Regions from separate parts of the Homo sapiens genome. Here all the other regions are linked to region 4. The links come from fine-mapping of genetic effects on gene expression. A gene starts in region 4. Each other region holds a variant in brackets. All regions are shown on one strand. Distances are between the middles of the regions. Region 1 overlaps POLR2B (RNA polymerase II subunit B). Region 2 overlaps IGFBP7-AS1 (IGFBP7 antisense RNA 1). Region 3 overlaps IGFBP7 (insulin like growth factor binding protein 7). Region 4 holds the start of IGFBP7 (insulin like growth factor binding protein 7). Region 5 overlaps NOA1 (nitric oxide associated 1). Region 6 overlaps IGFBP7 (insulin like growth factor binding protein 7).

What was found. PIP is the estimated chance that this variant, and not a neighbour inherited with it, causes the effect.
Region 1: its variant is fine-mapped to the expression of IGFBP7 in monocytes after LPS (Fairfax 2014, PIP 0.95).
Region 2: its variant is fine-mapped to the expression of IGFBP7 in whole blood (TOPMed, PIP 0.93).
Region 3: its variant is fine-mapped to the expression of IGFBP7 in whole blood (INTERVAL, PIP 0.98).
Region 5: its variant is fine-mapped to the expression of IGFBP7 in whole blood (INTERVAL, PIP 0.91).
Region 6: its variant is fine-mapped to the expression of IGFBP7 in left ventricle (GTEx, PIP above 0.99).

The regions. Positions count from the first base shown.
Region 1 is chr4:57,030,906-57,035,978 of GRCh38, reverse strand. POLR2B (RNA polymerase II subunit B) reads right to left here. Exons shown (of 25, transcript NM_000938.3): 25 at 4,821-5,073. The coding sequence ends at 4,991. IGFBP7 (insulin like growth factor binding protein 7) reads left to right here. Exons shown (of 5, transcript NM_001553.3): 3 at 2,668-2,784; 4 at 3,427-3,553; 5 at 4,643-5,073. The coding sequence ends at 4,662. Among named protein-coding and RNA genes, the nearest start is that of POLR2B, 55 kb to the right of the region's middle. The variant G/TTTG (reference allele first, on the strand shown) is at 1,930.
Region 2 is chr4:57,144,625-57,149,697 of GRCh38, reverse strand. All of the region lies in intron 1 of IGFBP7-AS1 (IGFBP7 antisense RNA 1), which reads right to left. Among named protein-coding and RNA genes, the nearest start is that of IGFBP7, 37 kb to the right of the region's middle. The variant C/A (reference allele first, on the strand shown) is at 2,722.
Region 3 is chr4:57,038,214-57,043,286 of GRCh38, reverse strand. IGFBP7 (insulin like growth factor binding protein 7) reads left to right here. Exons shown (of 5, transcript NM_001553.3): 2 at 2,354-2,463. Among named protein-coding and RNA genes, the nearest start is that of POLR2B, 62 kb to the right of the region's middle. The variant T/A (reference allele first, on the strand shown) is at 2,467.
Region 4 is chr4:57,107,344-57,112,416 of GRCh38, reverse strand. IGFBP7 (insulin like growth factor binding protein 7) reads left to right here and starts at 2,032. Exons shown (of 5, transcript NM_001553.3): 1 at 2,032-2,540. The coding sequence starts at 2,066. IGFBP7-AS1 (IGFBP7 antisense RNA 1) reads right to left here and starts at 2,655. Exons shown (of 5, transcript NR_034081.1): 1 at 2,447-2,655. RefSeq lists a silencer at 1,894-1,963.
Region 5 is chr4:56,970,064-56,975,136 of GRCh38, reverse strand. NOA1 (nitric oxide associated 1) reads left to right here. Exons shown (of 7, transcript NM_032313.4): 2 at 1,115-1,279; 3 at 1,784-1,989. Among named protein-coding and RNA genes, the nearest start is that of NOA1, 5.0 kb to the left of the region's middle. The variant C/T (reference allele first, on the strand shown) is at 3,155.
Region 6 is chr4:57,045,975-57,051,047 of GRCh38, reverse strand. The region is part of intron 1 of IGFBP7 (insulin like growth factor binding protein 7); the gene reads left to right. Among named protein-coding and RNA genes, the nearest start is that of IGFBP7-AS1, 61 kb to the left of the region's middle. The variant T/A (reference allele first, on the strand shown) is at 2,337.

The DNA.
Region 1 (5,073 bases), 76 kb after region 4:
GTATTGCTATAAGATAGATTCCCCAACAGTTACCTAAGTCAAAATATTTGTTTCAGTGTTAACAGACATTGTCAGATTACTTTCTAAATAGATTGTAGTAATTCACACTCCCACCAGAAATGGAGAAGTGCCATTTCTCTGCATCTTTACTAGCACTGAATATTAACCTCTCTTTTTTAGTTTTAATTCCAATTTTAACTAGAAAACACATATTTATTGGCCAGGCACAGTGGCTCATGCCTGTAATCCCAGCACTTTGGGAGGCCAAGGCAAGTGGATCACTTAAGGTCAGGAGTTCGAGACCACCCTGGCCAATATGGCAAAACCCCGTCTCTACTAAAACTATAAAAATTAGCCAGGCGTGGTGGCACATGCCTGTAATCCCAGCTACTCGGGAAGCTGAGGCAGGAGAATCACTGGAATCCCGGAGGCGGAGGCAGAGGTTGCAGTGAGCTGAGATCGCACCACTGCACTCCACCCTGGGTGACAGAGCGAGACTCTGTCTCAAAAAAAAAAGAAAACACATACTTAACAACACTTAGAATCCCCTTACACGAATAAGGGAGAGTTTGACATATAAAAATTTGTCATATGAAAATTCTTGGCACTTTTTTCTATGTTTTCTACATGATGTATAACCTTTTATAATTACGTAACATTAATTAAAATACGCCATGCCAACACTTGTGAAAAGAAGGGAAAAATAAAGTATATCTATATTGTGATTTATGTTAAATATTATATTTAACAAGATACATTTCCCTTTCCATAGTGGATCAGGTTAATTAGCATAAAATGCTGTTACTAAGAGCTATGGGATTTGAGGCTTAGTTGCTGAGATTCAGTATTTCAGTGCTGCAGTGTTTATTTTCTTGCTTTGGTCACACATAAAACTCATATGATTCTGAAATTCAGTAAATAAAGGTCAGAGTCATATTACTTGAGACCTTGGATCAAATTAATACTTCTACCAAAATATTCTTACAACCCATTTTTAAGTAACTATTTCAAAAGCTGTATTAGCATAAACCGTTTCTGCCAGCTACTTGGGAAACTAAGGGAAAAGGTACCTATTGAGTATGTTTGTCTTCACAGCATTTATGAGAAAGACATTAAGTTACGTGGTTTTCTCTCACTAATAGTGGCAATGTGGGAAAATTCCAGAAAAAAAATGCAAAAAGCCAGGCTTTCCAAATCATGCAAGATATTTTTTCTAGAGCAGGAATTGGCCTAGATCACATGTGGTTTGCTGAATCCCAGTCCTGGCATCATAAAGCTGAGAAAATACAGTGTAGGTTTGAAGCCGACACAACAGCAGAGTACCAAAAAACACATGGTAGGAGTGGGATCCACATGGGAAAAGCAACACTGAGATGGAAGTTAATAAAGTGTATATATTTATTTATATATTTATTATATTTATACATACGGTGTCTATATATACACACTATTATCTGGTCTTTATTAAGATTTGCTTTATTATAGAAGAAAATGAAAAGGAAACTAGCTATTTGAGGTTGTAAATCCTTTCTAATTACAAAGGTAATATCAATAAATGTCAGGTTGGCTCTTAAAGGAGATCTGGGATGGAATGAACAAACAATTCGTATATCCTTTTTTTTTTAAAACTCACCATTATCACAAGGCTTAAAATATTTGTACTCTGTAACTCAGCTGCTAAATGTATATGTATCGAGGAGCTACAAGTGAATTTCATTCTTTTGTATATTTTCCAGAGTTTATATAATAAAACATTTTGCCTTTTAAAATGAGGGCAAAAAGGATACTATTCAGTATTGGCCTTGCACCAAAGAAACTGAGTTTCTTCTGAATCTTGACATGACATACACAGAAACAGTCAGCAAGTTTTGTCATAAAAGAACAATGACAGCACATGTATTTGACAGCTGTTTTTTTTTTTTTTTTTTT[G/TTTG]AGATGGAGTCTCACTCTGTTGCCCAGGCTGCAGTGCAGTGGCGCGATCTCAGCTCACTGCAACCTCCGCCTCCAGGTTCAAGCAATTCTCCCACCTTAGCCTCCAGAGTAGCTGGGACTACGGGTGCTCGCCAACACAATCGGCTAATTTTTGTGTTTTTACTAGAGACAGGGTTTTGTCATGTTGGTCAGTCTGGTCTCGAACTCCTTTGATAGGTGTTTTTTATCTTAGGTGTTCAGTAAATCATTTGATTAATTCTTAGCCCTCAGAATAAAGTAATGGTATTGGCTTTGGTCTCAGCCTATTTTCCATTGATGAAGCTGTTGCAGGAAGAGCCCCAAGGTCCCAAGCATCAAACCTAGTGCTGGGTGACAGTTCATCAGTTGAACATGGCATGACAGGCAAAAGGCCTGGAACTGAGAAGCAGAATTTCCAAGAGCATGAGTGAATGAATGATGGTGACCAGTGGCAGGAAATTATGACCATGTATATTCCCCAGGCATGCAGAAAAATACATTAGTTTAAAACATGTACGCTTAGCAGGAAACTGGCAGGAAGAAATAAAAGAGGATCTATATTTTAAAAGTATTTAGGAAAGGGAAATAGTTCAGTGAAATGCTGGGTTTACTCTGTTAGAAAGTCTGACATACACTATGTGCAATTGTAGGGATGTGGCCACTTCCAAGTAGATGATCTGGTGTACAAAACTCAGTATTACTCTCCTTTTGTTTTTGCAGGTAAAAAGGGGTCACTATGGAGTTCAAAGGACAGAACTCCTGCCTGGTGACCGGGACAACCTGGCCATTCAGACCCGGGGTGGCCCAGAAAAGCATGAAGTAACTGGCTGGGTGCTGGTGAGTACCAGTACCAAGAGCTGGCAAGAGTTTCATTCTTAGCATTAGACATAAGCAGACCTGGCAAAGGTGCCTGATGTACCGCCAGCCTAAAGGTGCTTGCTCTTCCACATCTGTTTGGAATAGCCTTACCATGGAGTCGCTGCTCCTCTTTCAGAGAAACTAAAGGAAAAGTGCTTTATTGCATGTTTTGAAAACAACCAATGAATTAACAAGAACTAGTATTTTCCTAAGAGTTCAAAGCAAAATCCTCACACGGAGCTGCGTGGCCCAAGCATTGTTTTAACTGATTATCGATTAATAAATACCTTATTTTACTTGACCCTGGATATTCATGGAGAATACTTTGATCATATACCCTTATCAAGGTTGCCCTTAAACCGATAATGTGTACCTATCCAGTTTTTAACCTATGCAGTATGATCAAAAGTTGTCCATGACATTTCCTCATATGAATCCTCAGCAAACCAAATATGGTAGTTATCGAAGTCTCCTATCACAGGACTTGCACTGCTTCTAGCAGTACCTTTGCTATGAATCCCCTGGTCATCTTAGGAAATTTATGAAATAATGACCTCACTGGAACCACTGACAAAAGAGAAGACCACCACAGAGGAATACTAGATCTTTTTTCTTTCACAGGTATCTCCTCTAAGTAAGGAAGATGCTGGAGAATATGAGTGCCATGCATCCAATTCCCAAGGACAGGCTTCAGCATCAGCAAAAATTACAGTGGTTGATGCCTTACATGAAATACCAGTGAAAAAAGGTACACAATAAATCTCACAGCCATTTAAAAATGACTAGTACATTTGCTTTAAAAAGAACAGAACTAAGTATGAAAGTATCAGACGTAGCTATTGATGAAATTCTGTAGTTAGCAACCCATAAGGGCATTAAGTATGCCATTAAAATGTACAGCATGAGACTCCAAAAGATTATCTGGATGGGTGACTGAACATCGTTATTATGACTTAGATGCTTTTACCTTATCTAACATGTAAGAGTCAAAATCAAACTTGCCTGGAATGGCTTCTATTTCCCATAGCTTTCTACCTATCTACTTGGCATTTTCCCTTTGTGTTGTGACTATTAAATTCCTATTTAAAAGAAAATGATTGTGGGCAATTCTCGCCCTTCACTTTTGCTTTTAAAAGAAAAGGCCACAAAGGAGAGTATATTGGCAAATACCCAGTTCTGTTCTGCCTCCCCTTCCTTCACTGCCAAAAAGCTTCCTCTGAAGAACCCATCCTGTGTCATAGCAGTGCTACTTTACATTTATATAGTTCTATGAAACTGATGTCTGAATTGGCTTTCCCTTAGACAAAAGAACAAAATTTACCGTCACCATGTGTCAAACCATTCCACTGTGCAGATCACTCAGCTGTGATATGAAAAGAAATATTAAGTAAAGAAGTATTTGGTCAGATTCTCTTCAGCCATAATGTGTAATGTCAGGCAATGAAACAGAACAGTAGCTAAGAGTCAAGCCATGCGTTTGAGTCTCAGCTCTGCTACTAATTATTCCTCCACTTTACCTTTTGAAGGAGATCCGGACTACAAAGGAAAGGTCTTTAACCTCTCTGAATCTCATTGTGAAATGTGCTCTTCCAGTTCTATAATAAGATGTACCTTTGATGCATCAACCAATACAGCAAAATTGCCTTTCATAGCTAAAATCATGTAACTTGAGTTCCACAGAGCACTCCAGCATATCATTTATACAATTACTCATATATCCTTTATCCCCATATTTTAACATCTTCATTTATTTGGAAACACTCAACTACCTGCCAATTCAAAAGTCAACCACATCCCCATATGTAACTAATTTTTATCTTTTTTTTTTTTTAAACAGGTGAAGGTGCCGAGCTATAAACCTCCAGAATATTATTAGTCTGCATGGTTAAAAGTAGTCATGGATAACTACATTACCTGTTCTTGCCTAATAAGTTTCTTTTAATCCAATCCACTAACACTTTAGTTATATTCACTGGTTTTACACAGAGAAATACAAAATAAAGATCACACATCAAGACTATCTACAAAAATTTATTATATATTTACAGAAGAAAAGCATGCATATCATTAAACAAATAAAATACTTTTTATCACAACACAGTACATATTTGTCATTTTTAAAAAGCCACACAATAGAAACAAGACACCAAGATATTTAATTATCTTGTTGACTCCTGTAAAATAGCTAAACACTCATCATTCGCGGTGCAATACTCATAGACATAAGTTCCTGAAACAATAGTTTGCATGCGTAAGGCATTCGCACCA
Region 2 (5,073 bases), 37 kb before region 4:
ATACGTATTGATTGTTGGCTGTGAATTTCACCGTGGATAATGCTGAAGTCACCATCCTTCAAAGGTGTGTGAATTGAAGTTGCTGTTACCTAATCCTTGCAGGATGATTTGTAGCAAGAGACAAGACAAGGCAGGAGAAATGTCTACATGTAGGTCAGGCTGGACCTTCTCCAACCAATTTTCCATCCCAGATTATTTAATCTTCACTTCTAAGGTCCCAGTTTATTACATGCAAAGGACAGATTGATTGCCTGCATTTGACTAAGATGAAGACAGCTTTGTACTCTTGAATCTTTTGCAGAACTTAATTCTTCAAAATCACCCCATATTCCCAGGCCCAGCCACTACTGAACAACTTAAATATCTGCTGGCCTGACCTACCCCAGGCTGTATGTACTTTCCGTTTGCCTGTGAATGGGAACCAAATGGAAACCAGCACATACTCCTGGGTGTCATCAATTCTCCTCAAGCCAAACCAAACTTCATTCTAGCTCCTCAAATGCAGCAATAGTTCTTTGATATTTTTCACTTTCTGATGCTTAAAAGCATTAAGGACTACTAGCTAATTTGGCTACTAGAATACTTTTAAGTCCTGCAGAATGTGGTTGGTTAGTCATAGATGATTAACAGAGGAAAAGAACAGTGTCCAAGTGTCAGCTTCATGTTACTCTAAACTCCTAGCAACTAGGACATCAGAGTCTGGTGAGCTCAGAAATTCTAAGTGTGTGAAGCTTCTCACAGGGTAGAATTCAAAGGACTCCCAAAGTTTCCTTAATCCAGAACACTTCTCCAGCAACCTATTATGATACCTAAAATTTTACCATTAAAGATTTGTTTCAGGCCAGGCACAGTGGATTGTGCCTATAATCCCAGGACCTGGGAGGCTGAGGCAGGAGGAACACTTGAAGCCAGGAGTTTGAGACCAGGGTCAACATAGCAAGACCCTGTCTCTATAAAAATAAAAAGAAAAAAATTAGCTGGACATGATGATGCATGCCTGTAGTTCCAGCCACACAGGAGGATGAGGCAGGAGGATCGCTAGAGCCCAGGAGTTCGAGATCATAGCGAGGTATATTTGTGCCACTGTGCTCCAGCCTAGGTGACAAAGTGAGACCCTGTCTCCAAAAAAAAAAAAACATTGTTTCATTTGAGTTCAATCAAAGTGAGGTCTCTGAATGGCCCTTGTAAGAATCCCAGAAGCTAAGCTCTTAGAGGGCTAGCTATTATCTCCACATTAGCGGAGGTGTCTTCTAAGTTGACAGGCACTGAGCACAAGCCTTTATGAGAATATGAAACATCCAGATTGGAGAGAGACATGAAGAGCAGGAAATGAGTCACAGAAAAGAGGCAAAGAAGGCACTTAGGTACCACTTCCCAATTTAGTCCAGAATCTGTTCAAGGAAAACACCCATCCAATTTATGAGAGAAATTAGTCCCAGTGAAATGTCCAGAGAATAGAAGTGATAAAATTCCCCATGACATTCTTGGAACCTTTTTTTCTAGAGACAGAGTCTCACTCTTTTGCCCAGGCTGGAGTACAGTGGCTGAATCATAGCTCACTGCAGCCTTGAACTCCTGGGCTCAAGTTATCCTCCCCACCTCAGCTTCTCGAATAGCTGGGACTACACAAGTGCACCATCACACCGGCTAATTTTTTTATTTCTTGTAGAGACAGTCTCACTATGTTGCCCAGGCTGATCTCAAACTCCTGAGCTCAAGCGATCCTCCCACCTCAGCCTCCCAGGGTGCTGGGATTACAGGTGGGAGCCTCCACGCCCAGCCTCCTGGAACTTCAGTAAAACCTAAAGTAGGTTTTTATGCCTTTTCATTCCTGTAACTCACATCATTGGTTGCCACCAGGTGCCTAATCAGGGAAACTAGGACAAGTGGGTGGACACACTTGAGGCAAGCAGAAATTAAAGAGGAGAAATGTACCGTTTAACATAATCGAGTGTCATTAAAAGATTTTTAAATGCTTTCTAAAGTCAGCAAGACAAATCAGTCGACTTCACTTTCTTTTTTTAAAGTGTAAAAAATTGCCACTAGAGTGGGGAAAAAAAATCTCTTGGATGCATTAGTGCTTTATCATTGTCGTCAGCTCTTGCTTTGCCTAACTAATGACTCAATCATCTCTCTCCCTCTGATCCAATCATGTTTCTTCTACCCCAGAGTTGGAGGAGAGTCAATTTCCTCATACTCAGCCGGTACTTAGACCCTGGGCGTAATCCTGGCCTCTTTATCATCTCTTTTCAGGAAGGCTACTAACTGAAATTCTTCTTCTCTAAATGAATTCTATAATGACCCAGAGCCCATATTCACTAACTTTCTTTCCTGGCTTGTTTTATGTAACTATTATAAAGGTAATACTGAACTGCTGGCATCCCACCTACTTAGTGTGTATCTGTTTTGCTCCTTCCCATTTCTACTACTAATAGAAACAGTTTGTCTCTTGTGTTTTATGACACCAAACCCTTGAAATGATCTAATGTAACCTTCATCATTGGACCCACTGGCTTTGGTAAAAACCTGCTGGGGATAGATTCTCCAAATGCTCTTCTCTCCATCTTTGAATGTATCTCTTTATCCATTGCCCCTTCTTCAATCCTATCTCAGGAAAAATACTATACCCCTTGCTCTCTGAGACATAGTATTTCCACTTCCACTCTTCCTTGGCCTTGTCCATTTTGCCTCCTGCTGTATCTTGAAATACGAACTTTTTAA[C/A]CCTAAACCGCCACCCTATAAATGCTTCCTGTCCTCTGTGTTCTCACTCACAGCCTCTAAATATGCATCTGGGTCACCTAATTAAAACATCTCAACCCTCCCTCCATGTAGAAAGTGCAGACACTAATTCAATGGCTACTTTATATCCTTTAAACGATATATCCAGAGTGACAGGCACATAGCGGATGCTCACAATGTGGTCGTTCCTTTTCCCCAACTGTAGTGGATTTGTTTCTCAGCCTTCCAGCCATAGCTGAGGGAGGACAGCACAGTGGAGGGGAAACAGGCAGATCTTTAGAGTCATGCAGACAAAAGTGTCCTCCCCAGCTCCCCCACCTGCCGTCATATCTGTATAACAGTGTGGGTTGTTGACATCTCAGTCAGATTCTGCATAGTGAATTAATGTGGGGCTTTCCTTTCTCCTACCTTCAAGGGCAGGGACCATGATCTCAATTTATCTTTGCATCAATCTTCAGTTCCAAGAGACATGCCTGGCAAAAAGGAGCTATTCAGCACATATTAATGGAACCAACATGCAACAGAGATAACTGAAGATGATATTAAAAGTAATATCAGACACCATGGGGATAAGAAGGGGACGAGGGGAACTAGGTTTTCAGAAATGCCAAGAAATTCCTGGAAGTCAAGAGCAACTCTCCAGAAATGGACAAGAGAGAAAGGGTAAGGAAGGAGGTACAGTGATCACCAAAGAAAAAAGAGTAAGAAACTAAGGAATGCAAGACCAAGGGACTCTGATATTTGGTGGATTCTCTAGTCCTTTTTTAACAGGTACACTTCTATTAAAAATTGAAATGATTCTACAACATTTATATGAGGATTTTTAGTCATTAGATGCTTTTTATGTCCATTCTCTCTTATCAAAAAGGTGCAAGAATTTTCAACCTATTTCTGTTGGGTGCAGGGAGAAGAGGAGGAATAAATTGGAGGAGGGATTAATTATCTGAAAGAACATCTGGGAAACATAAGCAGGCATGGGATTCCAGAAACGATAAGAATCTCCCCTGAGGTCCAAACAGAAGGAAAGGAAGTTTCCTTTCAACCCTCTTGAAAGGACTTGAAGGGGGTTTTGCCCCTATTTTAGCCTTTGTTGTTTCAAAATAATGTAGGATTTTGTCTTCCATAGTTTTCATCATTTATTTATTTATTTTGGTGAAAGCATGTATAGAGAATTACAGAAGGGAATCCATGTATTATTTAGAACTAGCAGCTACACATAATCATTTAAACTAAAGATGGTTGATCAATAATTCTCTACACAGAAGAGAATTCTCTCTCACAGAGGAAACAAAAGGTTTTGATGTCTCAAGTCCTCTGAGATTGCACCTACAGCATTGGTCACAAGTTCCTACAGCCAAAATGCCTTTATCAGAAAGGAACATTCTAGAAGAGGCCAAGCTAATTATGACATTAGAGCCATTATCAAGAGAAGAAGCCAGTGGCTAGCAAGCTCTACGTGCTTGAAAAGACCATGATGTATTTTCTGTGTGTGTGCTCTCCTCAGAGGAATAAAAGACAATAAATGGACCAGGTATGGTGGCTCTCACCTGTAACCCCAGCACATTGGGGGGCCAAGGATGGAGGATCTCTTGAGCTCACAAATTCAAGAGCAACCTGGGAAATAAAGCGAAAACCCATCTCCACAAAAAAAAAAAAAAAAAAAAAAAAAAACACTAATTAGCCCATGTGGTGGTGCATGCCTATAGTTCCAGCTACTTGGGAGGCTGAGATGGGAGGACTGCTTAAACCCAGGAGGTCGAGGCTGCAGTGAGCCATGTTCTAAAAAAAAAAAAAAAAAAAAAAAAAAAAAAAAAAAAAAAAAAATTCTTGGCCTTGCAGGGTGGCTCATGCCTGTAATCCCAGCCTTTTGGAAGGGAGGCAGATGGATCACTTGAGCCCACAAGTTTGAAACCAGCCTGGGCAATATGGTAAAACCCCATCTCTACAAACAATACAAAAATTAGCCAGGTGCAGTGGCACACACCTGTAGTCCCAGCTACTCAGGAGGCTGAGGTGGGAGAATCACCTGAGTCCGGAGGCGGAGATTGCAGTGAGCCGAGATCGTGACACTGCTCTCCAGCCTGGGTAACAGAGTGAGACCCTATCTCAAAAAAATAAATAAACATATGCATACATACTATCTTTACCATGTTTTAAACCCTAGTAGAGTCTAAAGATGGAATTATGAATTTTTAATGTTTTCTTTTTTTGTAACCCAAATAAAACTGGGTATTTCATGATGAGTCACAATACAGTTTTGCATTCAAAAGAATCCAAAACCCAAAAGAAAACATTAAAAAGCAATGTACATTTTTATGGAATTCTTTTGAAGAG
Region 3 (5,073 bases), 69 kb after region 4:
TAAGCATGGAATAAGAGCCAGGTTAGGTTCTGGAGTCTCACACTGCCCCACATGAGGATCCCAGACTGCCAGCTCCATGACCCTCCTCTGCGGACGGTCCCAAGTCTTTCTGAAGGCCCCTGGTGATTGAACCCTGGCATTCAGAATTAGCAGAAGTGACATACTAATTACCAGTAACTAAAAAGTTGGTGTTCACATCTCTATTGCAGATGCCGGGAAGCCAGGCCGTCAGGGGACAGGCGCAGTCAGCAAGCACCCGCTCTCTCGGTATCTGTTGGCTTCCACAGTTTTGTGTTTCAGAGCCAAACCAGAAATCACCCAGGGGGTTACTTGCATCAGCTCTGGAAAATGTGTAAAGGATTGAAGTCCTGAGACTTTCCCATAATGTCTTATTTAGGCATCAGTCTCCCTCAGTTGATTAGAGCAGGAATCAGCAAATTTCTTTATAAAAGGCCAGTGACAGTGACTATTTTAGCCATACAGTCTCAGCCACAACTGCTCTAGCAGCCAGAGACCACAGGAAACAAATAAGTGTGGCTGTGTTCCAACAGAACTTTATTTTATGGACATTTCCTTTACAATTTTCACACGTCATGAAATATCCATCTTTTAATTTTTTTTCAACCATTTGAAACTGCAGGCCGGGCATAGTGGCTCACGCCTGTAATCCCAACACTTTGGGAGGCCAAGGTGGGGGGATCGCTTGAGCTCAGGGGTTCGAGACCAGCCTGGCCAACGTGGCAAAATGCTGTTTCTACTGAAAACACAAAAATTAGCTGGGCATGCACTTGTAGTCCTAGCTACTTGGGAGACTGAGTCATGGGAATTGCTTGAGCTTGAACCCGGGAGGCGGAGGTTGCCGTGAGCCAAGATCATGCCACTGCACTCCAGCCTGAGCAACAGAGTAAGGTTCTGTCTCAAAAAAATAAAATTTTTCTTAATTTAAAAAAACAAAAATCCAAACACCATTCTTAGCTCATAAGCCATGCAAAAACAGATGGCAGGCCAGATTTGGCCCACAGGCCATAGTTAGCTAACCCAGGACCAGAGAGTCATACCACTTTCATAGCAAAAAGGATACACATGGTTTGTGTTGACTCTGAGTAGGGAACTTCTCCAGAGGGTGCCATGATACAGAAGGTGGGGGGTGTGTTCCCTAATTGGGGGAATGGAGAAGCATCATTCTGGCCTCTCTCAGTGGCCCCATACCTGCTGACTCTATTTAGGCCGTGGCTTGAGGGTGCCCCCCACTTGCCAATGCCTCCTGCCAGGGACCTGGACACTGAGAACGCTGGGAAAGGGCCCTCTCCTTGGGGACCCTGGTCACACCCAATAGATCAGTCACTCTTCTTCCTTCTTACCAGCTGCCTCTCCTGAGCACACTGGAAGAAGGACCCCTGTACCACCTTCCTCGACACCCGGGCCTCTTCTGTTCAAAGGTGCCTCCTGGCCAGGCATGGTGGCTCACACCTGTAATCCCAGCAGTTGGGGAGGCTGAGGCAGGAGAATTACTTGAAGCCAGGAATTCGGGACCAGCCTGGGCAACATAGCAAGACCCCGTCTCTACAAAAATAAAAAATAAAAATTAACTGACATGGTGGTGCACGCCTATAGTCCCAGCTACTCGGGAGGCTGGGGTGGGAGGATCGCTGGAGACCAGGAGTTTGAGGCTGCAGTGAGCTATGATCAAGCCACTGCGCTCCAGCCTGGGTGGCAGAATGAGATTCTGTATCAAAAAAATAATAATAAAATTAAATTAAAAATAAAGATGTCCCTTCCAATCCCCTGACGCACACAGCACTCCACATGTTTCTTTTCTTCCCTGCCTCATCACCCTTTTCAACCTTAGATCCTAAGCTTCTTGAGGCAGAGACTTCCATCTTGTCTGGGTGCTTAGCACATTTTCAAATATTCTCTTAGATTTTTTTTCTTCATTACCCATGGAGCGGTTGCTTGTTGCCTTTCCAACCCAAAATAGAAATAGTGGTAAACAAAAGAAGAAAAACATTGAACATTTTGGAACTAAAATTTTATTACTACTGGAAAAGTCCCAGATAATAAAAAAACAGCTGGTAAATTAGCACTCATTTAAGCATGGTCTGGGGAAGAAGAAAATTTTAATAACACATTTTTCTTCCTAATTGTTTTTGTTTGTTTAGATTTATGCATTCCCAAAGTGGACCTTAAAATCATGTTGGTGGCAGGAGGAAGCCAGTGTGGTCTTTGAAATTTGCTTCAGATAATCCATCAAGGGGATGGCCTCATAAACAAAATTATTATTTTCTCCCTAAGATGCTGACTCATGTGAAGGACTGTTTAAAAGATGACTTTGGCTTTGTGCCCTCTCCTGCAGGTCCTTCCATAGTGACGCCCCCCAAGGACATCTGGAATGTCACTGGTGCCCAGGTGTACTTGAGCTGTGAGGTCATCGGAATCCCGACACCTGTCCTCATCTGGAACAAGGTC[T/A]GTGGCACAGACTTTAAGAGACATCCTAGGCTGACAAGCTTCTCTTGCACTGCACAAGGATGGTAAAACGTTAAATCCTCAGCCTGCTTTGTTGACTGCGGCTCCCGCAAGGTGAAGCCTTAGGGCAGTCATACAGGCCCCTCCCCTGGATTCATGGAACAAAAACCAGTCCCTGCCATGCTTTTGTTAGCAGCATCCTAGAATCTGAGAAACTGGAAGAACAATAATGCTGAACACCTGAACCCACCTTCAGGGTGTGTGTGCACCTGTGGTGTGTGTATGTGTGTGCATATGTGGGTGCGAGTGAAAGTGTGTGTGTCTGTGTTTGCGCCCTCAGTGGAGACAGTATAGCATAGGGGTTAAAAGCGTACGTTTCTCTCTTTCTGTCCCAAAATACCACCTCCAAGCCCCCACCAAGCTGTTTGTGATGGCATCAGTCTCCTCATTTAAGACTGAACATTTAGCTGATAATTTAGATCCTGTCTGCTTGGAGGCATTATTATTATTTTACTGGGAGGCTCGGCTAAGAAGGTAAAAGGACACAAAGCCCTGTAGCCTTCTCCTGGGAGCATGGATTATTTTTTCAGATTCCCTAAGTGCTGGGAGATGGATGAGTACATTTTAAGGGCACTTGGAAGTAGGATAGAAGGAATGAGGTGGGATCTATTCTCCTAAGTACCAAGGCTGTAGAACCATAAGTTAGGGACAGAGGAGACCACTCCAGAACAGAGCATTAAAAAGGAACAAGAGGAGGAATAGCAAAGAAAAAAATGTCTCCTTTCTGAATTTTGCTAAATGCTGGCCCCAGCCCCAAGTGGAAAAAGCATGATATTCTTTTAATAAATCAGCTTTGAAATGACTTCCCAAATGGAAAAAAAGAAAAAAAAAAGTGTGAGGCTGGGTGCAGTAGCACATGCCTGTAATCCCAGCACTTTGGGAGGCTGAGGCAGGAGGATCACTTGAGTCCTGGAGTTTGAGACCAGCCTGACCAACACAGTGAGACTTCCTTCTTACAAATAATTTTTTTAATTAGCTGGGCATGGTGAGGCATGCCTGTGGCCCCAGCTACTCAGGAGACTAAGGTGGAAGAACCCCTTGAGCCAGGAGATTGAGGCTGCAGTGAGCTGTGATTGCCCCACTGCACTCTAGCCTGTCTCAAAAAAAAAAAAAAAAAAAAGAGTGTGAATTCCTTAGCCAGGGTGGCTGAGTTCTCTGCAAGTCAGGGTTTCTCAGCCTCAGCACTATTGACATTTGGGGCCAGATAATTATTTGTTGTGCGGGCTGCCTGTGCTTTGGAAGATGTTTAGCAGTATCCCCAGCCTCTACCCACTATATAACAGTAGCATTCCCCCATCCCCCCTGTCGTGAGAATTAAAAGCATCTTCAGACATTGCCAAATGTCCCCTAAGGGTGTGGAGCTGGGGAATTGCCCTGGACTGAAAACCACTGCTGTTAGCCTCAACTCTGTTCTCTACCTTATAAAAGTAGCATGTAATTATCATAAAGATGAAATAAAGTAATGCAAGTAAAAATTACTTGATACATAGTTAGCACTCAGTAGACATTAGCTACTGTTCCTGGAAATTTTTCCCTTCAAGTGGCATTATCTTGTATAATTATCTTCATATTTGAAGGACAACATCATCTCAGCATGTATGGAGAAGGGAAAAGAAAACACTTATTTGCCATCAACTAACACCTCACAATTATACCATACACTTACGTTTTTGTCTTTTTTTTTTTTTTTTTTTTTTTGAGACATAGTTTCACTCTTATTGCCCAGGCTGGAGTGCAATGGCACCATCTCGGCTCACCGCAACCTCGCCTCCCGGGTTCAAGTGATTCTTCTGCCTCAGTCTCTCAAGTAGTTGGGATTACAGGCACCCGCCACCACGCCTGGCTAACTTTGTATTTTCAGTAGAGACAGGGTTTCTCCATGTTGGTCAGGCTGGTCTCGAACTCCCGACCTCAGGTGATACGCCCACCTTGCCCTCCCAAAGTGCTAGGATTACAGGTGTGAGCCACCGCGCCTGGTCGTTTTTGTCCTTTTTATACATTTTGAATTGCTGAGCCTCACAACTATCCTACGAAAAATAAAAATTAAAAAATTATCAAACTCATGCTACCAAAAAAGGAACTTAGTTTAAGTAAAAGGGCATAACCAGACATCCATTTTAAGCTGCCTTACTTCTCCAGCAAGCTCTAAGGTGGATGATAGTCTCCCTTGACTATTTTGTTTGCTCTCTGTGTGACCGGAGAAGCAACTTCTAGAACTCCAGGAGGACTGTGGCTCCCGCAGTCGGAGCTCTTTCTGTTGCAAGTTCTACCAGCCCATTTGAAACCAGCCTAGGCAAAACAAAAAGCGGGGCGGGATCCAGCCTCAAGGGCCCCTGCATCCAGGTACACACGCCATCAGAACTCTAACTCTTGACTCTTTGCTCTCAATATACTAGTCTCATTTTCTTCTGCTTCAGAAAGCTTCCTATGCAGTGGGAGATATCAACTCCACTCACATTTTTATTACAGCTTAAAGACCCCAGAGGAAAGAAAGGGCTTCCCTTCTCCCTGCTGCATTGTGAAAATCCCACGAAGGGCTCAAGCCCAGGT
Region 4 (5,073 bases):
GATAAGCACCTTTATTGGCTGTCTTCCCTTCCTGCTTGCTCACCTGCCTGCCCCAACCCTCAATCTCTGTGTCCTGATGTGGCTTCTCAGGTGACCTACTTGCACTGGAATCCTTGTCTCAGAGAAAGCTTCTGGAGAATCTAAAACTATGACAGATCGTCATACTAGATCATGGAACCAATTTAGTGGCTCTTGACCAGTGAATTAATAAAAAGGAAATCAGGGCCGGGCATAGTGGCTCACACCTGTAATCCCAACACTTTCGGAGGCCGAGGCAGGTGGATCACTTGAGGTCAGGAGTTTGAGACCAGCCTGGGCAACATGGTGAAACCCTGTCTCTAGTAAAAATACAAAAATTAGCCGGGCATGTTGGTGCATGCCTGTAATACCAGCTACTCGGGAGGCTGAGGCAGAAGGATTGTTTGAAGCTGGGAGGCAGAGGTTGCAGTGAGCCAAAATCTCACCACTGCACTCCAGACTAGGCGACACAGGGAGACTTCATCTCAAAAAAATAAAAAAAAGAAAAAGAAAGAAAAGAAAAGAAAGAAAGAAAGAAATTAAATACAATAGGAAATAGAGTGCACTCTGCATTTGTTTCCTTTTCAAGAAAACAAATGGGTCATGTAAACTGCATCTCTTAGGATGGAACAAAGACAAAAATATTTAGGGAAACTCTGCTGTAAAGATTTTTCATTGTTTTTTAAACAACTGTCAGGTCAACATATGACCTTTGAGGGGAAAAAAAATGCTCCACTTGTCTATAATACACTAAGGAGAGGCCAAAAAGCAGTGCTAGGTTTTTCTGGATTGGAGGATGTTTCCCCACTCTCCACCCCCCGATTTTGTGGTCATTTAATTTTCAAAAAATTTGCAATAATTATCCTTGTAAGAGTCTGTTGAGAATGAGTTCTTTACACTGCTAATGGGATTATGAACTGAACTGCTGGCTTTCAGTCAGCAACCCTGTAAATCCCTGGATTTATGCTAAGAAAAAAGAACACAAAAGAACCACAATGTGACATGCAGAATAATGCACGCTGCAATGTTACACATTCAGTTAAAAAGTGAAAGCAACTTCCATGTCTGCATTGGAGAGGCCAGTGTTCCTGGGAAGAGAGGCTTTCAAGTTGAGTTTGCAGAGCACTTCGCAGAAAGACTGAGGAAGAGTCCACCGTTTATATCAAAAACCTCCTGGAATGCTGGTGAAGACTGGGGGCGCTTTAGGTGCCTCCGTGGCAGCTCCAACGAGGAAGGAGCTGGGACCCCTGCTCCTCTCAGCTGCGCTCTGTTCTCCCGAGAGGCTTGCTGGAGGGCGAGCAGTTCAGCAAGAACTCAAAACAAGGGCACAGCTCTCACACGGATTCCAGTACTCACTGAAAACGGCTCAGCACAAAAAAAGCACAGAGTCTTGTTGAATGCCACTGGGAGACAAAGCGGGGAGGGAGGTGCAGGCAGTTAAGAGGTTCCAGAAAGGGAAGTGGTTGGCAACGGTTTGTCCTTTTAGTGCTTGACACCCAAGACCACAGCAGGCCTGTGGCCAGCGGGGACACAGTCCACAAGTGGGGGTTTTTAACAGCTTGTTCTTAAGAGAGCTTCCCAAACCACAGAGTAATGAGCACTCAGGTGTCTCAGGCCCACGGAGGATTTAATAGATGAAACCCTGGATCGTCTCGAAGCCGTGGTTGTTAAGAAGTTTAAATATATTGACCGGAAACGGGGAGAAACCAGAGGGTGGAAGAGCCGCTCGCACTGCGGTGCGATCCCTGAGGGCTCGGGGCAGGGGACTGGGGACCGAGCAGGAGCTGGCGGGGTGAGCTCTGCGAAGCGGGCGTGAGACCGAGCGCCCATGGGCCGGTCACGCCGGGTGCCCGCTCACCCCCCGACGCCAGCAGGAGCGCGCGCGCAGGCCCCGCGGGGCCGGGAGGGCGGCACGGGCGGGGCCCCCGTGCTCTCACCGCCCCGGGGTGTGGTTCCCGCGGACAGGCCGGGCGGGGCGGCGGGTTTAAGGCGCCGGCCGGCCCGACACGGCTCACTCGCGCCCTTGCCGCTGCCACCGCACCCCGCCATGGAGCGGCCGTCGCTGCGCGCCCTGCTCCTCGGCGCCGCTGGGCTGCTGCTCCTGCTCCTGCCCCTCTCCTCTTCCTCCTCTTCGGACACCTGCGGCCCCTGCGAGCCGGCCTCCTGCCCGCCCCTGCCCCCGCTGGGCTGCCTGCTGGGCGAGACCCGCGACGCGTGCGGCTGCTGCCCTATGTGCGCCCGCGGCGAGGGCGAGCCGTGCGGGGGTGGCGGCGCCGGCAGGGGGTACTGCGCGCCGGGCATGGAGTGCGTGAAGAGCCGCAAGAGGCGGAAGGGTAAAGCCGGGGCAGCAGCCGGCGGTCCGGGTGTAAGCGGCGTGTGCGTGTGCAAGAGCCGCTACCCGGTGTGCGGCAGCGACGGCACCACCTACCCGAGCGGCTGCCAGCTGCGCGCCGCCAGCCAGAGGGCCGAGAGCCGCGGGGAGAAGGCCATCACCCAGGTCAGCAAGGGCACCTGCGAGCAAGGTGGGCACGAGCGCTTCCCTCTCCAACCCTGCGCCGCTCGGCCCAGCGAAGGGCACATCCGACGGGGCGTCCGCGGCGGCCTCGCCCCGCGCTGCTCACTGCGATTCCCCCGCGGGCATCCCAGGAGCCAGATGGGAGGGAAAGAGTTGGCAGCCGCGGAATGCCAGGAGCGGTGGGCGACGCCCCCCCTTCTCCTTTTTGGTGGTTTTATTTTGAGAGTTTGCTGCGTGCGTCCAGAAAGTGAGGGCCGGGTGTATATGTAGAAAAGATTTTCCGAGACCTCAGACTTCCCCATGCCCAAAGCGCACCCAACTCGTGCTAACATCTGTCCATTTCTCATCATTCTTGGCTTGGGGATGTAGAGAGAGGTGAAGTCAAGAGATGGGGGAAAGGAGTTTGACAATTAAATATAAAGTAAGGACTTCCAGACAGACTTTTTTTTTTAAAAGATAGGATCTTGCTCTGTCGCCCAGGGTGGAGGGCAGTGGCACGATCTTGGCCCACTGCAACCTCTGCCTCAAGCGATCCTCCTGCCTCAGCCTCCCAAGTAGCTGGGACTATAAGCCTGTGCCACCACGCCTGGCCAATTTTTGGTTTTTTGTTTTGTTTTGTTTTGTTTTATAGCGACGGAGTTTCACTATGTTGCCTAGGCTGGTCTCGAACTCCTGAGCTCAAGTAATCCCGGCCTGCTGGGATTACAGGCATAAACCACCGTGCACAGCCCTGATTTCTTAGTATTGAAGAAAATAGTCCACTTTCTAAAAATTATAGGTTCTCAAACAGTAATCTAACTAGCTAATTATTTGTGGGCAAAAATAAAATACAAACTCTTTGAAGACTGTTTTTGTGATGCACTTTGTTGTCAACCTTCTGACCATTTTGTTTTTCCTTCCTATTTCTTTGATTTGTATTGTTTTGCATAATTTGTCCCCAGGATACACTGTTCAGCAGAAATGTCTTTGAGATTATGTTTGATTGTTTATTTTATTCCAAACAAGTCCAAGCTTGCTGTAAATGAAATAAGGAAATAGGCCGGGTGGGTTGGCTCACGTCTGTAATCCCAGCACTTTGGGAGGCCAAGATGGGCAGATCACGAGGTCAGGAGTTCGAGATCAGCCTGACCAACACGGTGAAACCCCATCTCTAATAAAAAATATATATATATACATTAGCTGGGCATGGTGGTGCATGCCTGTAATCACAGCTACTCAGGAGGCTGAGGCAGGAGAATCGCTTGAATCTGGGAGGCGGAGGTTGCAGTGAGCCGAGATCACATGACAGCACTCCAGCCTGGGTGACAGACAGAGACCCCATCTCAAAAAAAAAAGAAAGAAAGAAGAAAATAAAGTCTGGACTTGCAAATACACGCACATACACACACACATAGAAATTTTAACTCTAATGCCTGAAATAACATTTTCCATTGGCAGTATTTTCAAGGGAAAGTCAGACATTCAATGTTGGCAGCTCCTGATCTTAGCCAAGGTAGAAAAGGGAGAGGAGGCAGTTCTGAGGTTACAGAAGCTGTTGCTTCTTTAACACAGTTCAGACTTTCTCCAGAATTTCCAAATTCTTTCTTTAGAGCTTTTCCCAGAAGTCCACAAACTAATAGGTTGTATGTCATCAATTTCAGAGTTCACTATTGAAAGCCTTAAATTGTGTAACTCACTAGTAACTATTTATAGTATCATCACCTTAAACTTAGAAAATTGCAACCCAAAATAATCTGCATATGTTTACAATAGAAACAGTTATTTGTTACTTTGGATCTCATTTGTCGGTCACATCATGAAAAGATAAATGTGCGTTATTTAAGAATTTATTCCAAATATTGAGATTTTCTTATAAACATTACAATGGGGAACTTTATAGTTTTTTCAAAATGGCAGATACTTGCCTTATCAGAGCAGAAGGTTAGCTTGGTGATTGTTCAAGTGTTGTCAATTTCTAGTTTATACTTAATATTCCTTTTTCTCACCTGCTACTTACATCACCAAACACTCACACAGTCTGATTATAAAATATTGAGACTGACAGTCATATAGAACCAGTTTCATAACCTCATTACCATGTACACCCAGCTCAGTACCTCTCCAGACTGCAAACCCTTTGAGGGTTCCGGCCCGGCTTTTCTTTATATTTGGGGAAATGTTAGAGAAAACAGCATCTAAAACTGGAAACCTTGACTTAAATTAGCCATTTCTTCTCATCCTAAATTGAGAGAGATGAGTTCTAAATGGCAGAGACCATTTATAGGAGAATGCCAAAGAGAGCAGAAGAGAATGGGAAGCCTTTCCCACAGCAGAAACTTTCCACAGCAGAGACAATAGACTGATCCCTATCACATCCCCTAAATATTTCTTCTGACACCTGGATGGGTTTTGACAATCATAGAAGCAAACTGGACAGAGTGCCATTTACTTCTGTGCCATTTCATACTGGGGCTTTGCACAGAATAGGAAATGCATTGTCTAGGTTCCTCTAGACCTCTAGGTTCCCTTCTATTCTCAGAAGAAACTTAAGTTATGCTTGA
Region 5 (5,073 bases), 140 kb after region 4:
TGGGAGAATCACCTGAGCCTGGAAGGTTGAGGTGGCAGTGAGCCCTAATTGGGCCACTGCACTCCAATCCAGCCTGGACAACAGAGACCCAAAAAAACAGAAGTATCAGTCTTGTGACTTTAAGAAACTTCTGTGGCCAGGTGCAGTGGGTCACACCTGTAATCCGAGCACTTTGGGAGGCCAAGGTGGGCAGATCACCTGAGGTCAGGAGTTCCAGACCAGACCTGCCCACATGGTGAAACTCCCATGTCTACTAAAAATACAAAACTTAGCCGGGTTTGGTAGCTGGTGCCTGTAATCCCAGCTACTCAGGAGGCTGAGGGTGAAGAATCGCTTGAACCTGGGAGGCTGAGCCAAGATCACACCACTGCACTCCAGCCTGGGCAACAGAGCAAGACGCTGTCTCAAAAACAAGAAAGAAAGAAACAAACTTCTGTAATTAGAAAATGAGTCCTTCTATGGTTTAAATTTTTTTTTTTTTTTTTGAGACAGAGGCTCACTCTGTCGCCCAGGTTGGAGTGCAGTGGTGCGATCTCGCCTCACGGCAACCCTCACCTCCCAGGTTCAAGCGATTCTCCTGCCTCAGCCTCCCAAATAGCTGGACTACAAGTGTGCACCACCACACCCAGCTAATTTTTTGTATTTTTAGTAGAGACAGGGTTTCACCATGTTGGCAAGGCAGGTCTCGAACTCCTGACCTCAAGTGATCCACCCGCCTGGGCCTCCCAAAGTGCTGGGATTACAGGTGTGAGCCACTACGCTCAGCCAGGCTTAAATTTAAGTTGACAAAACTGACTGCCCCATTTGTTCCCTTGAAACCAAAGTTTCATTTAGTAAGCTGCTCTTCTCTGTCTTGCACTTTGAATTTTACAGAAAAATTACTTTTATACTGAATGGTAATGTGATAAAAATGGAAAGAAATCGGGCCTACAGATTTTGGATTCCAATTCTGGTTTCCCCTGTGAACTAATCTCTTAACCTATTTCCTCATTTGTAAAGTGGCAGTAATTTTATATTTTATTACAGTAACCAACACAGTGTAGATCCTCAAAAATGTTCATTTTCTTCCCCCTTATTCCCTTTTGTAAAGATGTATTTATTCTGTGTATTTCAGGTACTACATTAAACCTTCTGAAGTTTCCTATTTGCAACCCAACTCCTTACAGAATGTTTAAAAGGCATCAAAGACTTAAAAAAGATTCAACTCAAGCTGAAGAAGATCTTAGTGAGCAAGAACAAAATCAGCTTAATGTCCTCAAAAAGCATGGTTATGTCGTAGGTAAGCATCCTCTATGGGAAAACCCTCGTTGGTACTATGCTAAAATTCTTTGTTAAGCAACCTGAAATACAGCTGTCCGAGGCTAGCCAGTTTTTGTGGGGAGAGACTGCCTTCCTTATTCTGCAACAAAGAGGCCCTTTAGCGATAAGGCTACTGTTTGGAAACCCAGAGCAGTACAGGTAGTAAAAGTTTTTACTCCATGCAGCAGCTTTAGATTAGGTTGTCTGTCTTTCCTTGGTATATCTTTTCAGCCTTTCTTTAAAACAGTCTGATTTCCACACACCCTTGCCCCCGCCACTCCATGTACACAGCCAGCCACACGCTTGATTATTGCAAGAGTTGACTCCCACTGCTTTTTGGAAAAAAAAAAAAGCAAAAGTATCATTATGGTCTCACTTCCCTACACTGTAATCTTAGTAACTTGTTTGAGGGAAACATAAAAATTATGTCTGGAGTTAAAAGTATTAAAGGAGTGACTAATAACCTTACTATAACTTGTTCTAGGAAGAGTTGGAAGGACATTCTTGTATTCAGAAGAACAGAAGGATAACATTCCCTTTGAGTTTGATGCTGATTCACTTGCCTTTGACATGGAAAATGACCCTGTTATGGGTACACACAAATCCACCAAACAAGTAGAATTGACTGCACAAGATGTGAAAGATGCCCACTGGTTTTATGACACCCCTGGAATTACAAAAGAAAATTGTGTATGTATTTGGTTTCTTTTAGAAACATTTACTTTCTTTTTCTTTTTTAATGGGTTTATATTGCCTGCTGCCCAGATACAGCCAATTTATCAAGACAGGGGAATTGCAATAGAGAAAGAGTGTAATGCATGTAGAGCCAGCTAAATGGGAAACTGGAGTTTTATTACTAGTCATATCAGCCTCAGAAACATTTACTTTCAATTGCACAAGTACTGCTGTCTTAATTGGCAGAAAACAGGAAAAGAAGTATACTTCCATTTTAGACTCAGTTCTGATTCATTCATGAAAGCTGTTTAGGGGTGAATCTGTATGCCATCAAGTTCTGTGTTCCATTTGATAGACTTCATTGCTGACAACCAACTTATTTTATCATTGTGATTGTTACCTTGGTTAGGGAAACGTTTACAGAAGCCTAGGTTTTGAGGTTGGAAAAACACATAAATATCACTGGAGTCCAACTCCCTAGTCCCTGCTTGAATTACCTCTGTAACATATCCATCAAGGGGTCCTCCATCTTGAACTGAAAGGAGTGACTCACCAAAGCTGAAACTGTCATGTCACCTTCCAAGGTAACTCATTTGGGTCTTTGACCTTCTCTTTGTATTGAGTGTACTGAGCTGAATAGTCTCCCTGTAACATGTATCCATTGTTCCCCAAAGCCATCTGGGACTAAGGTAATACCTATTTCCCTTGCCAGACAAATATTTTAAAATGTAACGTCCCATCTCTTCTTCACCTATCCCTCCCTTTTCTTCTCTTTCATTACTTCATCCAGCAAACGTTGAGCATTCACTGTGCCCACAATCTGGATTATTTGTCTTCATTTCCTACAGCTGTGCTGTAGGAAACAGGCTATTCATTGGCCCAGGCCTCTTCAGAATGTTTTCTATGTTTGTTCTTAAAGTGTGACACTGAGAACTCAGTGCTCTCAGGTGAGCATGATTTAGAATAGCATTAACTCCGACCGGGCGCAGTGGCTCACGCCTGTAATCCCAGCACTTTGGGAGGCCCAGGCGGGCAGATCACAAGGTCAGGAGATCGAGACCATCTGGGCTAACACGGTGAAACCCTGTCTGTACTAAAAATACAAAAAATTAGCCAGGAGGTAGTGGGCACCTGTAGTCCCAGCTACTCGGGAGGCTGAGGCAGGAGAATGGTGTGAACC[C/T]GGGAGGCGGAGCTTGCAGTGAGCTGAGATCGTGCCACTGCACTCCAGTCTGGGTGACAGAGCAAGACTCTGTCTCAAAAAAAAAAAAAAAAGAATAGCATTAACTCCACCTGTCTTGTCCCTATGCCTCTCTTTTATCCAATTGCTCATGGACAACTTTGGGCCTCATAGGTAACTTTGACTTTGTCTTGTTAAATTCAGCCTATATCTTACTCTGTTAAATATTCATTCAATCTCATTACTTTTTATATTTGCAGTTTGGATCTTCATTCAGATCATTGATTGACTCAAATGTGCATCCAGGATACAGCCTCACAACAGATTCATTAATCATTTCCTTCGAATCTGGTTACTGACCAGTTTCCGATTTTCTAATTATCTCTGTATCTCCCTACAAAACCACATTGGTTTCTTAGGTACTTTTCTTGGCCTCATCAGGAACACTTATAGTTACATTCTCAGAATTGTATTCTATTTGGTGTCCCCTGTCATTGAATCATACACACCTTTTAAATTTTATTGCTCTCCTGGAATAATTGCTCATGCCATCTTTTCTTCCTTAGCAGTCCAAAAGTTCAGAGCTGCTTTCTAATAATATTCTGTCACTTTAGCTTAATGAACTAATTCTTCCCCCACCATACTTTTTTTTTTTTTTTTTTTTTTTTTTGAGATGGAGTCTGACTCTCTTGCCCAGGCTGGAGTGCAGTGGCGCAATGATCTTGGCTCACTGCAACCTCTGCCGCCTGGGTTCAAGCGATTGTCCTGCCTCAGCCTCTCGAGTAGCTGGTATTAGAGGCATGTACCACCACACCCAGCTACTTTTTGTATTTTTAATAGAGACAGGGTTTCGCCATGTTGGCCAGGCTGGTCTCAAACCCCTCACCTCAGGTAATCCACCCACTTCAGCCTCCCAAAGTGCTAGGATTGTGGATGGGAGCCACTACGCCCAGACTAATTCTTCCCTTTCAGATGCTATTAGATCAGGCATAGCAGTTACTTCAGTCATATATCCTCTATTAAATAGTTGTGTCAGAAAGGCAAGAATTTGCAAAATACTCTAGACAGCAGAATGAGAACCCCAAATTTTTAGATATAAACGTCTGTCAGCACTGGTAGTTTGCTTCTCTGTTAGTTTACAGATAAACTTATTTGATGTCTTAAACCAGGGTTTCCCAGACTGAACCAAGGATCTCTGTTGTGAAATGAAAGTATTAAGACTCAGGCTGTGCACAGTGCCTCACACCTGTAGTCCCAGCACTTTGGGAGGCCGAGGTGGGAGGATTGCTTGAGCCCAGGAGTTTGAGACCAGCCTGGGCAACATGCCAAAACTGTATCTCTACTAAAAATACAAAAAATTAGCTGGGCATGGTGGTACATGCCTGTAATCCCAGCTATTGAGGAGGCTGAGGCACAAGAATCACTTGATACACTTATTGGGAGGCAGAGGTTGCAGTGAGCCGAGATCATGCCACTGCAGCCCAGCCTGGGCAACAGAGTGAAACCCTGTCTCAACAAAAAAGAGAGACAAGGTTTCCCCTGTTGCCCAGGCTGGAATGCAGTGGCGTGATCAAGTAACTTCAAAGTCCTGGGCTCAACCAATTCTCCCACTTCAGCCTCCCAAGTAGCTAGGGCCACAGGTACATACCACCATGCCCAACTAATTGTTTAGTTTTTGTAGAGACAGGACCTCGCTATGTTGCCCAGTCTGGTCTAGGCTGGAGTGCAGTGGTGGAATCTTGGCCCACTGTAACTTCTGCCTCCCTGGCTCAAGCAATCCTCCACCTCAGCCTCCAGGGTAGCTGGGAACTACAGACACACGCCACCCCAGCTAATTTTTGTATTTTTCATAGAGGTGAGGTTTTGCCGTGTTGCCCAGACTGGTCTCAAACTCCTGAGCTCAGCTGGGCACAATGGTGCAT
Region 6 (5,073 bases), 61 kb after region 4:
CTCTATCTCCATATGTGGTATCTGAGGTCCTTCTTAAACCCTGATTTTCCCCTTATTTGGTATTAATGCACACACTATTTTCAGGACCCAGCATCAAGAGTCAAGGTGAGTGTTGTTTGCAAATCTATCATAACTCGGAGAAGTCCCCATACTCAAATGTCTTAGCCATGTTAGCATGTACTCAGCAAGAGGCCATGAACAGTGGCTCATGCCTGTAACCCCAGCACTTTGAGAGGCCGAGGAGGGAGGATCACTTGAAGCCAAGGGTTCGAGACCAGCCTGGGCAACAAAGCAAGACCCTGTCTCTACAAAAAAAAAAAAAAAATTCTTTTTTAATTAGCCGGGCATGGTTGCACTTGCCTGTAGTCCTAGCTCCTTGGGAGGCTGAGGCAGAAGGACCCATGAGACTAGGAGTTTGGAGTCTGCAGTGAGCTATGATCGTAGCACCATTGCACTCCTGCCTGAGTGACAGAGCAAGACTCTGTCTATAAAAACTTTTGAAAAGCCAGGTGCAGTGGCTTATGCCTTTAATCCTAGCTCTTTGGGAGGCTGAGGCAGGTGGATCACCTGAGGTCAGGAGTTCGAGACCAGCCTGGCCAACATGGTGAAACCCCATCTCTACTAAAAATACAAAAATCAGCCGGGCATGGTGATGGCTGCCTGTAATCCCAGCTACTCAGGAGGATGAGGCAGGAGAATCGCTTGAACCCACAGGGCAGAGGTTGCAGTGAGCCGAGATTGCACAACTTCACTCCTGCCTGAGCGAAAGAGCGAAACTCTGTCTCAAAAAAAAAAAAAAAAACTTAAATAAAAATAAAATAAATGTTCAGTGAGAACCATAATGTGAATAGTATAACCCAGCATGATTTTGGTGTGAGGATAATTGATAATCATTTTCTTCCAGCAGACCTACCCATCTCGGTGGGATTTGCTTCAAGTGATGTATATTCAAATTAATTTGCATCTCCTGGTCATATACTAATTGGTTGGTGAGTGGTTAGTAGCCAAGAAACACTGCTTATGGCAAGAGAAAGTCAAGTGAAAGATTAAAGAAAATCATGATTAATAATCTGCCAGCTGATAAATAAGATAGTTATAACACCACTTTGGTGAGGTGTACGCTTTTGGCCATGTGTACACTGGTGCATTTTCAAGACAGTGGCTATCTTTTCACTTCTGTTTGGCTAATCATGTTATGTTGTTCTGAAGTTACTGCTGCCCTATACCCACTTCACACAGCCTGAGCTCTGTCTCCTTCCAATGAACATGAAGATCTTTTGATTCCGTAGTTCCTGGTTCTGTTCTGATTCCGACAGGATGCTGGCATCCTCAATTAGGCCAGCTAAGGAAAGCATTAGAAAACAGTGATGCACTACACTCTGTGGAACTTACCGAAACCAACAGGATTTTAGAGAAGAAATAAGGGGGAGCCTGAAGCTGTCAGGCCGCAAAAAATGTCAAAGAGAAATGAAACTTCAGTCTTAGAATGTCAAATAAAGTGTGATAAGAAATAAGAGGAGGGAAGATATTCCAAGTAGGTAAGGGCATCAGCATAAGCAAAGGTGCTGGAAGGGGTAATGAACATGTAATGGTGGGTGAGCAGGACTGCTGGGAGCAGACAGTGAGTTTGGGTAGAAATGACATAGAAGAGTGAATTGGTAAAAATGGAAGAGATGATGGGCAAATGAGAAAGCAACGAAGCAAAAAATATATAGTACAATATGATATTGGAGGACAGAAATGATTATTGGGGGTAATTTGACTTTTGACCATTTCCCAGGCTTAATTCAAGTATATTTAGCTTTCAAACATGACTTCTCCTAATATCTTCTACACAGCTCTTTCAGATGAAAAAAAAATTGGCTAACTGGGTAAAGGGTGATACCTTTATAAGCTCTATTTTTTTAATCCCTGAGGAAGTGAACCATGTTATGAGTCACATACATCGTGTTTAGGTAGGTGAGGAAATGCATTGAACTGATTTGCAGAGAATGAGAGCTCCAGACCCAGACAGTGAGACTTCAGAACTTCATAAATGTCAAAGCATCTTTGACATCTATGTCCCAGCTCTAGGACACATTCATGATAGGTTCACTTACTTCCAAACCCAAAGAGGATATTCTTAGACACTTCCTAGTTTCTTCATCTTGTAAAAGTGGTTAAGTGGCTTGTCCAAGGTCTTTTGGCTATAAATTGTAGACAAGGATTCAGAGCCAAGTGTTCTGTCCCCAAGAATGCTTTTGTCTCTTTTTTTTAAATAGTAACATCATGAGGACATCTCAGGTCATGGCTGGGGAGTGCTTTGTGCTCTGTAAGGGACTAGGAAATTGTTCACA[T/A]ACTTCTTCAATATTGTTCCTGCTGTGCTTTTTATAGGATAACACATTTTAACTCTGTCCTCACTACCAAGACTTTATATAAAATCAGCTGGAATGAATTGCTGGTCAAATTCAAAATTAATTTCATGTCAAAGTCTTTTCCTCATGATATTTGTGTGTTTTGTGAGAACTGCCTTTCTTAAATTCTTCTGAACCAACTCATAATACTCCAAATTTAAATCCATCCATCTATAAAACTACCTTTTCTGTATCAGTAGTACTTTTTCAGAACATACCTATTTCTAGATTATAATCAAATATTCTTAAAATAATCTGGTAGTCTGTGAGTCCTTTGTCTAGAACTTAATTAAAAGTGGCAAAGGAGGCCGGGTGCTGTTGCTCACTCCTGTAATCCCAGTACTTTGGGAGGCCGAGGCAGGTGGATCACGAGGTCAGGAGATCGAGACCATCCTGGGTAACACGGTCACCCCGTCTCTACTAAAAATACAAAAAGTTAGCCGGGAGTGGTGGTGGATGCCTGTAGTCCCAGCTACTTGGGAGGCTGAGGCAGGAGAATGGCGTGAGCCCAGGATGTGGAGCTTGCAGTGAGCCGAGATGGCACCACTGCACTCCACACTGGGCGACAGAGCAAGACTCCGTCTCAAAAAAAAAAAGGGGGGCGGAGGGGGGCAAAGGAGAAGCCAGGCATGGTGACTTACACCTATAATCCCAGCACTTTGAGAGGCCGAGGCAGGCAGGTTGCCTGAGCTCAGGAGTTCAAGACCAGCCTGGCCAACATGGCAAGACCCCATATCTAAAAAAATACAAAATTTAGCCAGGCGTGGTGGCACACACCTGCAGTCCTAGCTATTTGGGAAGCTGAGGTGGGAGGATTGTTTGGGCCCAGGAGATTGAGGCTGCAGTGAGCCATGTTCGCACCACTGTGCTCCAGCCTGAGTGACAGAGAAGACCCAGTCTCTAAAAAGAAAAAATGTAGCAAAGGAGGAGTATGCAGACTTAGGTGGAGATTCTGCAGGAGACTTCTAAGTACTTTTAAGGTGATATGATTCATTAAATTGAATTTTAATTTACTTTATTTTTAATGTTTATTTTTTATTTGCATAAACTTATGGAGTACAAATGTAATTTTGTTCCAAGGATGTATTTCATAGTAGTGAATTTTTGTTTTCTTCCAAGGTTAGAACTTTCTTCTTCCTTGCTATAACTTCCTTCAGGATCTGGCTATCTTTCTTCATTTTTTCTTTCTTCTCCTTCTCCTTCACCTCCTCTGTATTAGACTGTTCTTATGCTGCTAATAAATACATACCCGAGACTGAGTAACTTATAAGAAAAAGATGGTTAATGGACTCACAGCTCCATGAGGCTGGGGAGGCCTCACAATCATGGTGGAAGGCGAAGGAGGAGCAAAGTCACATCTTACATGGCAGCAGGCAGGACAGCATGTGCAGGGGAACTGCCCTTTATGAAACCATCAGATCTCATGAGACTTAGTCGCTATTACGAGAACAGCACAGGAAAAACCTGTCCCCATGATTCAATTACCTTCCACCGCGTACCCCCCAACCCATGACACATGGGAATTATGGGAGCTACAATTTGAGATTTGGGTGGGGACACAGTCAAACCATATCATCCTCTCTCCCTTCTTTCCCTTCAAGGAATGTTCAAAAAGAAGAGACCCTCTAAGGAATGATCAAAAGGAAGAGACACTCTAAAGTTACTGAGCGAGAGTTATAAAAAATAGGGAAGGCAAGAAAATGAATTTAGAGGGTTGAGAAGGATCTAAAGAGATTGAATGAGAATTAATTGAGTGTGTAAGGTAAAAGGAAAGTGGGGTAGCCTGGTTTGGGTACAGTCATCTGGATAGAAAAATGTAGGTAGTCCACCTTGGGTGGACATCTCTTTACATCAGGCAGCACTGCAGATGACTTGGTTGCTTTCTGGAGTTGCCGAGGGTGGGTACAAGGCAGAGGGAGGCAGCGCACAGTCATTTATTCTATGAACAGGATGTTTGCTAGACAGATGTTTGAGCAGTCTGGAGCTCTTAATGGAACAAGGGCAAGGATAAATAAATAATTGGACCTATCCTGATGTTTGTCCCTATACATTTAAGAATTCTGTGACCTGTTTTAAACGGAATCCAAACACTGAGTATGAGTTAGATGATAATGTTGTTATTACCCTTGACCTGGCCTTGAGGACTGATTTTGAGCTTTCTGTATGAGAAAATTAGCTCAGAGTGACCTAAAAATTTCTTTATTCTTAAAAACAGAAATAAATTCTCGATCTGCCTTGCCCTTCTTGGAAGAAAGGTAGAGTGGAAAGAGTTAGAAGTTATTTGGTACAGAGTCATTGAGTACAGTGCTCTCCTGAGGTAGAACAGAACTGTCAGGGATTGAATTGCAGGACAGACCTGCAATTCAAGATGATTGTTGGCAGTGAAATTGCTGATCAATGGAATGTGTGGGATGATAGTTCTTGAGAGTCGGGGAGGAGAGTGCAGCATTGTTGGGGCTGGCATTGTATCCACCGAAAACATTTTCAGCATCTCTTCTCTTCTATACAAGACTTGTCCTCTTGGTGTCCCTGTGGGTCACCATTAAGTCGCTTGCTTATTCTTTCTCACCATGTATCTTCATTTACCTTTCTCTAAAACTTCTGTAATTTGCTTTTATCAAGAGATTTTGGTCGCGTGCAGTGGCTCACACCTGTAATCCCAGCACTTTGGGAGACTGAG